Regions from separate parts of the Homo sapiens genome. Here region 2 is linked to region 1. The links come from fine-mapping of genetic effects on gene expression. Tissue or cell type: whole blood. Region 1 holds a variant in brackets; the other region holds the start of a gene. All regions are shown on one strand. Distances are between the middles of the regions.

Evidence for each region. PIP is the estimated chance that this variant, and not a neighbour inherited with it, causes the effect.
Region 2: AIFM2 starts here. The variant in region 1 is fine-mapped to the expression of AIFM2 in whole blood (TOPMed, PIP above 0.99).

Annotation. Positions count from the first base shown.
Region 1 is chr10:70,165,920-70,174,019 of GRCh38, forward strand. SAR1A (secretion associated Ras related GTPase 1A) reads right to left here and starts at 4,595. Exons shown (of 7, transcript NM_020150.5): 1 at 4,494-4,595. RefSeq lists enhancers at 3,561-4,219, 4,220-4,876, 5,010-5,089 and a silencer at 4,520-4,879. The variant C/A (reference allele first, on the strand shown) is at 4,979.
Region 2 is chr10:70,129,041-70,137,143 of GRCh38, forward strand. AIFM2 (AIF family member 2) reads right to left here and starts at 3,785. Exons shown (of 9, transcript NM_032797.6): 1 at 3,694-3,785. RefSeq lists an enhancer at 3,576-4,076 and silencers at 3,598-3,807, 3,640-3,959.

The sequences.
Region 1 (8,100 bases):
AGCCATCCCAACCTTTAGCAATCATCAACCTGATCAGTCAACAGCTATCAACGTGGAGTAACATGGAGGTAAGATCCCCAACCAGCAAAGAGGTTATGACTCGCAGAAGGCTCCGATGCTTGTTAGCATTTTTTAGCCATAAAGTATTTTTTAAATAAGGTACGTATTTTCTAAGACGTAATGCTACTGTACACTTAACAGACTACAGTATAGTGTAAACGTAACTTTTATGTGCACTAGGAAACCAAAATATTCGTGTTACTTGCTTTACTGTACTTGTTTTATTTCAGTAGTCTGGAACTAAACTCACAGTATATCCGAGGTATGCCTACACTTTCTTTTACTGTGTGACTTACTCCTCCAGGCAGCGGTTCATTCACATTCCCTAGACATACGACTGCTGTCATCCAGTGAAGAACAACTCTAGGAAATCAGTCTTATCAATAATGTGAATCAGAATGCCACTTAGATGCACTAAATAGAAAATAAGAATGAAAAGCACATTGATTTGAATGAAAAACATATTAATCTATCCTGTAAACAACTCTAAAAAACAAAAGTCACCCAAAATTCTACTGGCCAGCACCACTTGCCCTGCTCCATTTACCAATGTTATCTCAATATTTAATCATTTTTGCAGACACGGGTCTCAATTTATAAAAAGAAATGACATCACTATTTTAGAGAACCATTAAGGGATAAGAAGAGAATCTTTTCATACATGAATAATCACACCCAAACTCATTTTACAAATAGATTTTCTTAAAATAAGAATACTTATTCAGGCCGGGCCCCCGTGGCTCACACCTGTAATCCCAGCATTTTGCAAGGCTGAGGTGGGGGATTCCTCCCTGACCTCAGGAGTTCAAGACCAGCCTGGGTAACATAGAGAGACCTGCATCTCTACAAAAAAAAAAAAAAAAAATTAAAATTAGTCAGGCATGGTGGCACGTGCTTGTAGTTCCAGCTACTTGGGAGGCTGAGGCAAGAGGATTGCTTGAGCCCAGGAATTTGAGGCTGCCGTGAGCTATGATTGTGTCACTGCACCCCAGCCTGGGTGGCAGAGCAAGACCCTGTCTCAAGAAACAAAAAAGCAAAAAAAGAATACTTTTCAGGATATAGCAGTAAGTTCCCAAGCCAGTAAATAACTTAACTGGTACTGATATTAACACTACTTTTTCTATTGTTTCTCATAGCTATCAAAAGCTACTAAAAGGTTTACATATATTGGTAATAAGCAAAATGACCTCTGAATGAAATTAAGAGGGTAGGATCTAGACACACTGGTGGGTCTTAAGGTTTCTCAGCATTGTCTGGCCATGCTGAATTTTTGCTTTAGTATCTCAGATGCGGTGCAGAAAAATGGAAGGTCCACACTTTTACTCCTCTCCATCAGCAGGAGCATCTGAACACAGGGCTTTATACTAGATATGACCAACTGCATTCAAAATTTTCATGAACAGTAACCAGTAAAAGCATTACCCACAAAAAAATCCCCTTACATTCAAAGAATGCCAGATGAAGAATAAAATGAACAGCTGGGCGCGGCAGCGCTTGCTTGTAATCCCAGCTATGCAGAAGGCTGAGGCAGGAGAAACGCTTGAACCTAGAAGGCAGAGGTTGCAGTGAGCGGAGATCGCTCCACTGCACTTCAGCCTGGGTGACAGAGCAGGACTCCATCTCAAAAAAAAAAAAAAAAGAGTAAATTGAAAAGTAGAGCTGGTATGTTTTTCATCCAATTACTGGGTTTTTATCAGGCCCATGGCCTAATCTGTAAATTTTAGGGCCTAATTAATATTTATTTTTCACGGCCCTTACCAAAGACAGCCAAATAAAGTTTGGCAGTTTGGGTGGATACATACTAGGCTCTTACGAAAAAATACTAAATGAGGTGATTTCTTTTTTGCCTTTTCAATAACAAATATATTTCAGCAGAAAGACTGCATTTATCACATTAACTAATAGTTTTCTCTGGAAATTGAGTCCGCACTTTAAGGAGTCCAACAACTTAAATATACTTAATAAAGCTCCTGTGCTGAAATTCCCATTTACTGTAAATAAGTAAAAGAACAATGTGCCCTTCCTCTGCAACTCCCTCAAACCAAACATCCTCCTATACTTTTCTCAATCTACTGCCTGGAGAAGCACAGCTCACCTTTAGAGCACACCCCTCATTAAGGTCATTCCCACTCAGATCATTTTGGAGGGAAGAATTAAAGCATCCAAGTAGCTAAATCCCGGCTGCTGCTGATTTGTATGCTCCAAGGGAGGAGATGGCTTAAAAGCAGGAGTGTCAAAGGAAAATAAAATGGAAAATTAAAGTAGTTCAATTGCCATGAAAAACTATTTAAAGTGTGGCATTTTCTCCTTTTCACCTTTGCAGAATTCATCTAGTTGAAAATACTTGGCTCATGCCTGTAATCCCAGCACTTTGGGAGGCCGAGGCAAGTGGATGACCTGAGGTCAGGAGTTCGAGATCAGCCTGGCCAACATGGTGAAACCCCATCTCTACTTAAAATACAAAAATTAGCTAGGCATGGTGGGCGCCTGTTATCCCAGCTACTCGGGAGGTTGAGGCAGGAGAATCACTTGAACCCGGGAGGCAGAGGTTGTAGTGAGCCGAGGTCATGACATTGCACTCCAGTCTGGACAACAAGAGCAAAAACTCCATCTCAAAAAAAAGAAAGAAAGAAAAATTTCTAAAGTGATGTAAACATTTTTTACAAGTCTGTAAAGTATTGACTGAAAACCAGTGTAGTACAAATGTATATAGAAGTGTTGGGTTGTAAAGGAGTGATGAGAGTGGAGGCTGACTGAAGAAACTCTTCAGGTGAGCTAAAAATAATAAAAACCCTTACTAGATCCAAAGAGTCGGGTTGCACTGCTACCCAAAGTTAAGAAAATGCCCCCGCCCCCCTTTTCTTAAGACAGACCAAGACTCTGTCTCCAAGGCTGAAGTGCAGTGTTGCCATCATGGCTCACTGCAGCCTCAACCTCCCAGGCTCAAGAGATCCTCCCACCTCAGCCTCCTCAGCAGCTGAAAATGGCCTTGGTGGCTCCTCTCTCCTTAAGATCTTAGGATTTGTACCAACTCATCAGTAGTTTTACAATCTGCACAGTACTTGTACATCTCATTTCATCCCCACACCAACCCTACCAGGCAAGGATCACTGGCCTCATTTAACAAGATAAAGATGAGGATACTCCTAGTTTTGCTGAGTCCTTTAAGACGGCTCAGTTGAAAAAGTAATAGTGCCAGGGCTTAAACCCTCATCTCTAACACCAAAGCCTAAGCTCTTCCTGTTAACAGTACATAAAATTCAAACCCAAACCACAAAATTGCTGGGGAAAAAAAAAAAAACTAAAACTTCTTTAACCCACCAACTACACAGAGGATGATCTTCCGAAGTTCTCTTCCTTACAACTCATCACATCTTTTGAATGGTATTTTAATAACTAGCATTCTATTTATTTTCTATTCTTGGTCCATTGTACCACCTTACGAGAAGTTAAGAGTAATCTAAAATTTAAGGTAGGTCTCTAAACTATCAACAAAACACTATTAATGTACCTAAAATGAAAACTTGCGAATTCCAGGGCTAAATGATTCAAACAAATGTTAATAGAAAAGGAGGGCACCAATCTGACCATTAGCCAATTTAAAAATTTACGCATTACTTGTTATACATAATCAGGGCAACTTTAAGACGCCATTCCAGGCAGATTTGGGGTAGTAGGCGGCTGGCTTTTAGCTAACTCTGCTTAGCTGCGGGGTAAATGTCAAAGGTCAGCCCCATGGCGAATCTCCCTAAGCCCCCTGTCGCAACCGAAGCCGATGGAATCAACAAGACAAAGATGCTCCTGACCCACTGGCTAGAATCGTGAAGAAAACGCTAATCCATGTCAAATGCACATAAGGAAATTTTTCCATGCAGAGACCAGACAGGGGAAAAGGGGAAGGGAGAAGGAGAAAATACAGGGTTCGACCCGGGCCATCGGAAGACAACCAAGCGCTGACTTGGGGGTAAGCCCTGGACTAGGGGCCTGTAGACCAGGTTCGAGCGCTCACACTCGCTAACTGCGGAGCCTTGGCCAGCCTCAGTCTCCGAGTCTACAAAACAAGGATAATCATAAAGGGCTCCCACCCGCCTCACCGAGGGCTGTGAGGCTCTTCCGAGACAGAGGACATGGAGCCATTTCGTAAACCGGAGCGCACGGTACAGACAAGAAACTGTTATCCGGCCCAGCAGCTGCGAGACCCCCGAGCGGAATGCAAGTGGACCCCAGGCAAAGAGGACAGCAGGGGACGGAGCAGATCTGGCCAAGTTGTCCCGTCCCCGCCCAGAATCAGCCCCGCGGCCCCACAGAACCGCCTGCGTGTCACTTCCCCCCCACCCAACCCCGCCAGGGCCAGCCTCCGCTCCGACCTCCCCGCCTTCCGTCCCAGCCCCTCGAGCCCCAACTCCCCTCCCCGACGCGACCCTCAGACTCACGGCCTGAGGGGCTCCTCCGGCAAAACAGCGGCTGGCTCGGACCCTCCCTCAGAGCACACTAACCAGCAGCACCCGGGACCGCCAGCTACTCGCCGGATGTACGTCACACCCCTCCCCGGGACTTCCGGGCGCGTAATGGGCCCCGCCCCCTCACAGCGTTACGCCTCTCTGCCCCGGTGCCGTCCCACCAGCGACTCGGGCCGCGGAGGGGCGGGCATAAGGCGTGACAAAGCGCGCTCGGGGTCTGGCCCCGCCTCGGCCCCGCCTGCTCCCGTCTGGCTAGCTGACCGCGCGAGACGTGGCAGCGCCGGAACCCTGGGTCCGGGGCTGGGTCCTGGAGTCCCTGAGCGGCCTGGTACACTCGGGATCGCGGCTTCCCATTCCAGACGCACCAGGAAAGTCAGAAGTGGGTACCGACGGTGACATAGGTCCTGGGAAAGATGAGTTGACCTTGGGGCCCTCCACTTGAGGTGGATCCCTCCAAG[C/A]TTTTGCTTTTTTTCTTCCTTGCTTTTTTTTTTTTTTTTTTTTTTTTTGAGGCGGAGTCTCACTTTGTCGCCCAGGCTGGAGTGCAGTGGCGCGATCTCGGCTCACTGCAACCTCCACCTCCCGGATTCAAGCGATTCTCATACCTCGGCCTCCCGAGTAGCTGGAACTACAGGCGCATGTCACCACACCTGGCTAATTTTTTTGTATTTTTACAGAGACAGGTTTCACCGTGTTGGCCAGGCTGGTCTCGAACTTCTGACCTCAAGTGATCCGCTGGCCTCGGCCTTCCAAAATGCTGGGATGAGAGGCGTGAGCCACCGCGCCCAGCTGCTTTTGCTTTGAGTCGCACTTCCTTGCCCTGGGGTGGCCTATGTTTTAGAAAAACAGAAAAACAGCTAATATTTATTGTGCACTTATGTTCCAGGCAGAGCACTGGGTACTTTGCACGCTTTGTCTAATTTCACCGTCATTGGAGTCCTGTGACTCCAGATGCTAGTATTATCCTTATTGACAAATGAGAGAGCAATGTTCAGAATAACCTACCATGCCCAAGTTCACACAGCTAAGTGGCAAAGCAACGTGTTCACCCCAGTATATTTCGCATGCATTTTCTCATTTAATTCTCAGGACAGTCCCACGAGATTGGTACTATTATTACTCTCATTTTACAAATAAAACAGTCTAATGGAAAGATGAATGACGTCTGTGGGTTCATGAAGATCTCAATTCTCCTTTAGTAAAATTTAAATTTAACATAATCCCAATAAAAGTACTAATAGGATTAATAGGTCGTGTGTGGTTTCGTTCTTTTTTTTTAATTACCCTATTTGTTCCTAAAATTCGTATAGAAAACCAAACAAAACTAGTCCAGAAACAGGCTTTCAAAATGAAGAACAAGGAGGTGGGAACTAACCCTGTTGGATATTAAAACATATTATAGAGCCTAAGTTATTAAAACTGGTGTGCGTGCACATGCACAAACACACACACACAAAAAACACAATGGAACAGAGCAAAGTACAGAAATGACTAAAGTACATGCAGAAATAAAACTAAAGTAGCACCTGGGACTCCAGCAATACTCAGGGAGCTGAGTGGGCAAGCTCACCACCCTCTACCCTCCGCTCATCCTGGGGTCTTAGATGTTGAATTTGAACCCTGTCCTGTCACAGAAAGGTGTCAGGCCACTTCTGAGGCTTCTCACCAGCTTTAGCTAAACCAGGGACAATGTGTCCATGGGGCTTGGAACCCCTTGTGCATCCTGGAGACACAGATGCAAGCCCAGTGCAAGCCAACACATTGGATTACTGGCTTTGTTGAGAGCCTGGCTGCACGAGGTGGAGGTGTCTGAACCACAGGATGGCTTGGGAGGCTGGGGAAGGAGGGAACATGCAGGCAGATTCTCAGAAAAGCCGCAAACTCTACTTACCTAAAGGCTTGAGCAAGTTGACGAATGCCCCAGACCACCATGTACCCACTGTAAAATGGGTGAAACAGGCATTGTTGTGCACATAGTTTTTCCAGAGTACTGTTTTCAATAAATGATTCTGTTATGTGTTGTTAAATAAATTAATAAATAATAAAAGGGGTTGAGACAATTGGGTAGTCAAAAAAACCTACAGGTTGAATCTCCAAAAGTTTATTACTCTAAACAAGTTTCAAGTGATGAAAAGATGTGTGTATTTTGAAATGACACTATAAAGGTACTAGAAAAACAGAAGAAAGCATGGATTCCTTATAATTTTGCAATGAGAAGACCTTTCTGGGTATGATTGAAAATCTAGACCGGGCGTGGTGACTCATGCCTGTAATCCCAGCGCTTTGGGAGGCTGAGACTGGCGAATCACAAGGTCAGGAGTTCGAGACCAGCCTGGCCAACATGGTAAAACCCCATCTCTACTACAAATACAAAAAATTAGCCAGGCGTAGTGGCAGGCGCCTGTAATCCCAGCTACTTGGGAGGCTGAGGCAGGCGAATCGCTTGAACCCCTGCGGCAGAGGTTGCAGTGAGCCGAGATCACACCACTGCACTCCAACCCCGGGCAACAGACTGAGACTCCATCTCAAAAAAAAAAAAAAAAAAGAAAGAAAAGAAAATGTAGATGCCATAAAAGAAAAGATTGACAAATTTAACTACATAAAAATTAAAAACTTATATGGCATAACAACAATCATGACACCATAAGCAAACTCAGACAAATGACAAGTTGAGAAAAATAATCACATCATAGGCAAGTAAGAAGTATGAAAAAGACTAACAACACAATAGGAAAATAGGCAACAGTTCAGAACAGATAATTCATAGGAAAGGAAATAAAAATGACTTTTCTTTTTTTTTTTTTTTTCTGAGACCTAGTCTCACTCTGTCACCCAGGCTGGAGTACAGTGGCGGTCTCGGCTCACTGCAACCTCTGCCTCCAGGATTCAAGCGATTCTCCTGCCTCAGCCTCCTGCATAGTTGGGATTACAGGCATGAGCCACCGAGCCCGGCTAATCTTTGTATTTTTAGTAGACATGGTCTTTGTATTTTTAGTAGAGATGAGGTCTCACCTTGTTGGCCAGGCTGGTCTCAAACTCCTAACCTCCAGTGATCCGCCCGCCTAGGCCTCCCAAAGTGCTGGGATTACAGGCATGAGCCACTGCGCCTGGCCCAAAAATGACTCAAGCATAATAAAATAGTAATAGAAATATAGATACTATAGAAAATATAAATATAGATATTATAGAATAATAGATATAGAAAATATATAAATCCATTTATTTGTCTATGTATCTCTGTATAGTTATATCTATACTGAAATAGAAATAGATTTTAAAAAATAAAAGATAAATTTGAAACTTACTGAGATACCATTTTCACCTGTCAGATTGGCAAAAGTTCACCAGTTTATTGGTGGGAAGGCTGTTTCAGATAGAGAAGTCAGACTGGGCATGGTGGCTTATGCCTGTAATCCCAACACTGGGAGACCGAGGCAGGAGGGTCGCTTGAGCCCAGGAGGTTGAGGGTACAGTGAGCCATGATTGCACTCCAGCCTAGGCAACAGAGCGAGACCTTGTCTCTAAATTAATTAATTAATTAACTAAATCAAATACAGAAGTCAAGAAAGGCCCCACCCAGGTG
Region 2 (8,103 bases), 37 kb before region 1:
GGGACAGGGTCTTGCTCTATCACCCAGGCCAGAATGCAGTGGCATGATCATAACTCATTATAACCTTGAACTCCTGAGCTGGCTAATTTTTTTTTTTTTTTTTGTAGAGATGAGGGTCTCACTATGTTGCCTAGGCTGATCTTGAACTCCTAGCCCCTCAAGGGATCCTCCTGCCTTAGCCTCCCGAAGCACTGGAATTACAGGGGTAAGCCACTGTGATTTCGAGCTGTAGAAAAGATTCAATGAGATCATTTACGTAAAGCATTTTAGCATGGTGCCTGGCACAGAGTAGCAATGAATACACAGCAGCCACGTTTTATATATATATATATAAAATATATGTTGCAGATTAGTTTGCCCAGTCCCAAAAAGTCAGGCCACAGAACCACATGAAAGATCTAATCCCATTTATGGCCAATAAGACACATCCACCTCGGTATGTATACACATATACAGGTAATGATTACAGCAGTTAGCATCTGTTGCACTTTTGCCCATATCTTCGATTTAAGGTATGAGTTTTTTCTCCTTATTTTGGAAAAAAGTTCAACAACTTGCCCAAGTTCAATTCTCAACACATCAAACCTGCTGTCTGAACCAAAGTGCTAATAGTGGTCATAGATAATGTTTTCATTTTCTTCCTTAAGCTTTTGTATTGTTTGAATTTTTTTCAAACAAGCATATGTCATTTTTGCAGAAATAATGTCTTTAATAATAGGACAGACCGCTTACCATCTAATTTTTTAATCAAAATAGAATTCACATATACAATTTACCACTTAAGATGTAAGTTCACAGTGAGCTATGATTGCACCACTGCACTCCAGCCTAGATGAGACCCCATCTTTTAAAAAAAAAAAATGAGATGTAGGCTGACTCACACCTCTAATCCCAACACTTTGGGAGGCCAATGCAGGCAGATTGCTTGAGCTCCGGAGTTCCAGACCAGCCTGGGCAATATGGTGAAACCCCATCTCTACAAAAAATACAAAAATTAGCCAGGCATGGTGGCACATGCCTGTGGTCCCTGATATCAGGAGGCTGAGGTGGGAGGATCGCTTGAGCCTAGGAGGTCGAGGTTGCAGTGAGGCATGATCATGCCACTGCACTCTAGCCTGGGCGCCAGAGCAAGACTCTGTCTCAAAAAAAAATTTTTTTTAATTTAAATTTCAAAAAAAGATGTAAGTTCAGTGGGTTTTAGTGTATTCACCAGGTTGTGCAACCATCACAACTATCTAATTCCAGAACACTTCCATCACCCCCAAAATAAATCCTGTACCCCACCTACCCTAGCCCTGGGTAGCTACTAATGTTCTTTCTGTCTCTATAGATTTGTCTGTTCTAGACAATTCATGTAGATGGAATTATACACTATGTGGCTTTTTGTTTGCGACGTCTTCCACTGATCATCATGTTTTCAAGGTTCATCCGAGTTGTAGCATGTTATCAGTGCTTCATTCCTTTTCCTGGCTGAAAAACAGTCCATTACTGGTGTATGAATAGACCACATTTTGTTTATCCACTCATCAGCTGACGGGCACTTGGGTTGTTTCCACCTTTTGACTATGTGAATAACGCCACTATGAACATTTGTGTACAGGTTTTTGTGTGAACCAGTCTTCAGTCCTCTTTAGTATATATTTAGGTATGGAATTGCTGGGTCATATGGTAACTTGAAGTTTAACTTTTTGAGGAACTGCTAAATCCACCATCTGATTTTGAACTGAACACCAAAGCCCCAGTGGGAATCACAGAGAATCTTAACTATGTCTGTCTAGGTTCAAGAATGTTAGCTTAAAAGAAGGCCTAAGAGAGCGGAACAAACCCTGATTGTCCAGGAACCCCTCAGTAACTTTACCTTTGCTCCCTGCCACAACACACATACACACAGACACACACACACACAATCTGATTTACACAAAAATTTGCTCAGTCAATCCTGTTTTCTCTGCCAAGAGCATCCACCCTGATCTCAAGGGTATTATTCCACAATAAGCAGCCCATAGGACTACTGAAAAACCAGGAAGTTACATTTATGCCAAAGCTGTTCAGAGGTTGTGCCTCAGAAGACACACAGCAGGAACCGTGTGGGCTCTGATCAAAGCAAGAATGTCATCCCAGAGTTGCTCCAGTATTGCTTCACAAATATTACAAATAAAACACGATGCTTTTTGAGTCGTCATGGCTCACACAAAGGGTAGGTTTCAACATCAGCCTCTGGAGAGCCACATTCCCAGAGTGGCCGTCCCGGATAAGAAGGCCACTACAGCACGACTCACAGCACCATGGAGGTTTCCTCCACCTGCGGGACACAGCAGGATGGAGACGGTTGGGCGGCCTCCCTTCCTGGGACACTCCATGGCCAGCCCCTCAGGGACTACTTGAAGAACAGAACCCCCAAAAGACCAGTTTCTGAAAAGGGACTCAAAGTCTAAGGGAGGCAGCCTCCTTTTATCCCCAGGGGAGGGCAGCTCTGGGGCAGACAGGTTCATCTGGATGTCATATTCACTCCCGCACAGAAAACCTAGGCCAAGCAATTTGTCCATCCTCCTCAGAGCCAGTTTTGTGGTCCCCATGGTCTGCCCACCACCTGTACCTGGACGCTGGCTTCATTTGGCCACCAGACAAAAGTCAGGCTGGCCCTGGAGTCCACCGGCCTGCCCAGCCCATCACTTCTGGGCTAGGTAGTGCTAAGCCTGCCCAGCCCACCCTGGCTGGGGCTCAGTGCCCTCTTCTTGGTGACACACTGTGCTCCTTGGAGAACTCCTCTCTAGGTGCTGGGGTGAGGGCAGGTGTGATCTGAGATCCCGGGGCTCTCTGGCAGGTGCATGCACGCACACTGGAACCTGATACAGGCTTTTGAACACAGGTGCACAGTCCAGAAACCTGCAAGTCCCATCCCAAACTATATCTGACTCTCTGCCCTATGCCTGTCCTCCTACAGGATCATCAGCCCCCAAGAGACCTCACCACTCCCCATCCTCACCTTAAATTCCAGGGTCAAAAAGACTCTCCTTGTAGGGAAAGGTAGGGTGTGTTGATCAGGTGGTGTTGGAAGGAGAGCCCCAATATAGGCCACTAATTCAGTTCCAGGTGGACTGCACGCGTCCCATCAGAGTTAGTTTACTCACCGCTGGTCTTTGTCCCTGCAGCACCCAGGGCTTCGGGAAGGGAGAAGCAGACTTCCTAGTGCTGCACCCCCCAGCTCCCCCGAGCCTATGGGCACTGGGTTGACTCCAGTTTCTTTCCTCTTAGAGACTGAGGTTTCTCCCTTTCCTCTCACACCTGCTTCTGTCCGGACCGGCCGCTTCTACCCAGCGGACCCTCGGACGGTCCTCGCAAGATCCGGGTTACACCCGCCCCGTGTTCCCTCTTCCCCGGTTCGCCCTTCCCGGCCTAAGCCCATCTTCCTTAGGAAAACTTAGCAGGGATTTAGGGGCCAAACCAGGAGGGTGGAGTTTTCTTTGCCCTCGGCCAGGAGCACATCTCCCTGTTGCGTTTTTTGGGGGAGACAGAGAGGGGCGGGCCTGAGTCGAGTATCCCTCTCCTCGCAGCGCCACAACTGCGCGCACCGACCTCCCCACGCCAGACGCGGCGTGAGCCAGGCCTCTAATCCGCTCGCCCCTCTTCCGGGTCCCGGTCCCGCCCGGGGCGCCCGGGGTCTCGAGAGCCCGCCTGGCGGCGCGATCTCACCTGTCGGCCGCGCCCGCGCGCTCTCGCTCCGGCTCCCGCTCCCGCTCCCGCTCCCGCTTGGTCGTCTTCCCGAGTTACTGACCCGAGGCGCTCCCGGGCGGGGCGTGACTCAGCACTCGTGCTGGTCCCCGACCCCGCGGCAACGCCCCGGCCAGGCCCCGGAAACGGTCCTGGCACGCTGGGGCTGGTCTCCGAACGGCCCGCCGGACTAACCTTGACCCTGAGCGAACGGCCTTGAACTTTGAAACAAATGCTCCCATGGCCAGATGTCGCCTCTCCGGCTCCTGCCAGCACCCGCGCCCCAGTCCTGCCGAGCCATTCAGACTTGGTTTAAAGTGTCCTTTCAGCATACTTTAAAGCAAAAAAGAGAGAGAGAGAGAGAGAGAGAGAGAGAGAGAGAGAGAGAGAGAGAGAGAGAGAGAGAAGGAAGGAAGGAAAACAAGCATCCCCCTGTTCCTCTGATTTTCTCGAGGACACCTTTAAAGCCACTGGAACCTTGGAGAGTGGGGTTCCCCTCACACGTTGGGCGCACTGCCAACATCCTTCCTTCAGACATACACATAATAATTCCGCAAACCCTGTTGAGCTCCTACATTTGCCAGGCACTGTGCTAGGCGTTGGAGGGATAACTTGGAGAGAAAACTGACAAGGTTCCTGCTTTCACGGAGGCGACAGTCTGGGAAAAGACAGATATTAAACACACCACCAAAAAATACATGTATAGAGAAAACAAAAACCATGTATCACCAACTGCAGTAAGAAAGATTGGGCATGGCCAGGCACGGTGGCTCATGCCTACAGTCCCAGCACTTAGGGAGGCCAAGGCGGGAGGATCGTTTGAGCCCAGGAGTTGGAGACCAGCCTGGGCAACATAGCGAGACCTACAAAAATTAGCCGGGCTTGTTGGTGCACACCTGTAGTCCCAGCTTCTCGGGAAGCTGAGGTGGGAGGATTGCTTGAGCCCAGGAGTTTGAGGCTACAGTGAACCATGATCATTCCACTGCACTCCAGCCTAGGTGACTGTGAGATTCTGTCTCAAAAAAAAAATAATAATAATAATAATAATAAATGAAATGAAATGAAAAAATAAAAAAGAAAGACTGAGGGCAAAGGAAGGGTGCAAATACTTCTCTCCAAGGATGAGAAAGAGGTAGATTTAGGTAAAGAGGAAGGAAGTGTGGTCTGGATGTGCAAAGACCCACAGGCAGGACAATGACCTGGAAGGCAGTGTATTGCCAGCTCAAATCAGACCAAGCTAACTCAGCGAAAGATAAGCCATCTCCATCTACTTACTGCAAATATTAGCACCTACTTTAAGAGTTGTGGATAAGGGCCAGGCACGGTGGCTCACGTCTGTAATCCGAGCACTTTGGGAGGCCGAGGTGGGTGGATCACCTGAGGTCAGGAGTTCGAGACCAGCCTGGCAAACATGGTAAAACACTGTCTCTACAAAAAATTAGCCTGGCATGGTGGCACATGCCTGTAGTCCCAACTACTCAGGAGGCTGAGGCAGGAGATTCACTTGAACCAGGAAGGCAGAGGTTGCAGTGAGCGGAGGTCATGCCATTGCACTCCAGCCTGGGCAACAAGAGCGAAACTCCATCTCTAAAAAAAGAAAAAAAGAGTTGTGGAAAGGCCTCAATGAGATCATTTTTATAAAGTGTTTTAACATGGTGCCTGGCACACAGTAGCAATGAATACACAGCAGCCATTTATTATAGATATTTTATATTGCAGATTATTTTGCCCAAGGCAACCAGAATGATTTATTTTTGATGAAAAATCCTACTCATCGTCTTAGAAAAACAATAAGCTAATATTTATTGATCACGAACTAAGTGCTTTGAATGACTTCTCAAGTTTTTTTGTTTGTTTTTGTTTTTTTCACAAAGGTCCTGCAAGGTAAGTTTTATTAATCTCCATTTTGCAGATAAGGAAATTTAGGCTCCTAGAGGCTAAAGAATTTAGGCAAGGTCCCTCAGCTAGTAAAGCAAGGGGGTGGGCCTACAATGGAGGTCTGAACCATGACCCCTTTTTGGGGGGTAGGGGGACGAATCTGGCTCTGTCGCTTAGGCTGGAGTGCAGTGGCATGCTCTCGGCTCACTGAAGCCTCCACCTTCCAGGCTCAAGCGATTCTCATGCCTCAGCCTCCCAAGCAGCTGGAATTACAGGCACCTGCCACCACACCCGGCTATAGTAGAAACGGGGTTTCACCATGTTGGCCAGGCTAGTCTCAAACTCCTGGCCTCAAGTGATCTGCCCACCTCGGCCTCCCAAAGTGCTGGGATTACAGGTGTGAGCCACTGAGCCCAGCCTGAACCATGACCTTAAAGCCAGGAAACCCCTCAGCAAGCATCATCCCTAAGGAGCCAGAGGGCACTGCTCAGGCAAAGCAGAATCTCAGTTGTGGGGAATTTACTGGGCATGTACCCAGTAAGATGTGACACAGAGAGGTGAACAGAGAGGCTACAGCCTGCCCACTGCACGGAATCAGCCCTGAGGCTTGGGATGGTCATGGAAGGCTTTGTGTAGAAGGTAGGCGTGCAAGGATGAAGGGGATGCCAGCTGGCAGGATGCAAGGAAAGGACTCCAGAAAGAGCAGGACAAAGATAAAGCTGGAAGAGAGGCGAGAGAGGTGTGAGGTGGCCCAACACTGGGCTCAGGTGTGCCAGGGCTGGTGTGGCCCATCTCTAAGGACCTGTCCCAAACCATGAAAAACTTTTTTTTTTTCCTTAAGACCTGCTACAAAGCAACAAACCATGAAAATCAAGGAATTTTTCTGATTATCACTCAATACTTTCTTGGCAACCAGAAGACACCTCCATCCAGGAGAGGGGACATGGTCTCATGCAACCCCTCCAGGTAGCTCACTGCACACCACTCCTCTGGTCCCACTCAGCAGTGCCCATAGCTTTGGAACTGAAAATCAGGGCTCGCTGCCTAAAAAAGGGGTTTTGTCTCTGAAATTCCAAGTGCCAGAGGTAGCAGGAAAGTGCGGTGGTTAGGATCCTGAAAAAGTGGCAAGTTCATTCCATGGAACTTTGACGGTTAGTGGGGAGAGCAGGCAGATTGTCTAACATGACGGAATCTAAGAGGAGGAAGCGTTGCTGGCTCTCTGCTGTAATGAGCTCAGCCAGGCCTGTGGGTACTTCCTTACAGACAACAGGTGGCTTTTCTGCTGGCTCCCAGGGCTGGAGGAGCTCCAAGGTACTGGGTCATCTCAGGAGCCCAGAGAAACAGAGGCAGTATGCCCACTCGAAGAACAGGCAACTCTTAGATCTGAAGAGCCTGGTAAATGTTCTCCTTTTCCATACGTAGTTCCAACGAAATTTGTAAGCTTCAAAGAAGAGAGGAATATCCTCGTTTCTTCCTCTCTCCCCCAACACATGATTTGGTATAGTGTTCCCAGCTAGGGAGAGGCTATATTAATGAAGGTAAGTTCTGCTGCAATGACCAATAGATTCCAAATGTAATGGCTCAAATACAACAGAAGTGCACTTCTTGCTAGGGCATGAGTTCCAGGCCAGTGGACTGGTTTATGAGGCTGTCTCCCTTCACACAGGCATCCAGGGACCAGGCTAACAGGACATGGCAAGTGAGTGCCACTCATGGTCCCAAATTAGATCTTTGTTTTTCTTTTTTAGAAACAGGGTCTCCCTCTGTCACCCAGGCTGGAGTGCAGTGGCATGATCATAGCTCACTGCAGCCTCGAACTCCCATGCTCAAGCCATCCTCCTGCCTCAGCCTCCCAAGTAGCTGGGACCACAGGTGTGCACCACCATACCTGGCTAATTTGTGTGTGTGTGTGTGTGTGTGTGTGTGTGTGTGTGTGTGTTTGAAGAAACAGGGTCTTGCTATGTTGCCTAGGCTGGTCTCAAACTCCTGGGTTCAAGCCTCCCAAAGTGCTGGGATTACATGCGTGAGATACAGCACCTGGTCTCAAATTAGGGAGCTCATCAGTTCTACCTCCTGTGTTGTCACTTGATCTCACCACCACCAGTCCTGCCTCAGCCATCTTCTCTCTCACCAAGCCACTGTAACTGGTCCCTGGGCCTGTCTTGCACTTTTCCAATTTTCTCTCCACAAGGAAGCTGTGCCACACTTCCTTGTCCCAGCTCCTGCCACTCTCAGCCTGGAACACTCTGTTTCCAGTCCACTTGGTAAACTCTGAACTCTCTTTTCATGGTTCAGAGCCTGAATCACCTTGAAGCCTTACCTAACCCACCCCTTCTGGGCCCCCAGACATACTCTTCCCTGGACAGAGCTTCCCTGCTTATTGCACTAATGGGCTGACACATCAGTCTCCCCAGAGTAGCCTGTGGGTGCCTTGATGCCTGTATTAGTCCGTTTTCACGCTGCTGATAAAGACATACCTGAGACTGGGATGAAAAAGAGAATTAATGGACTTAC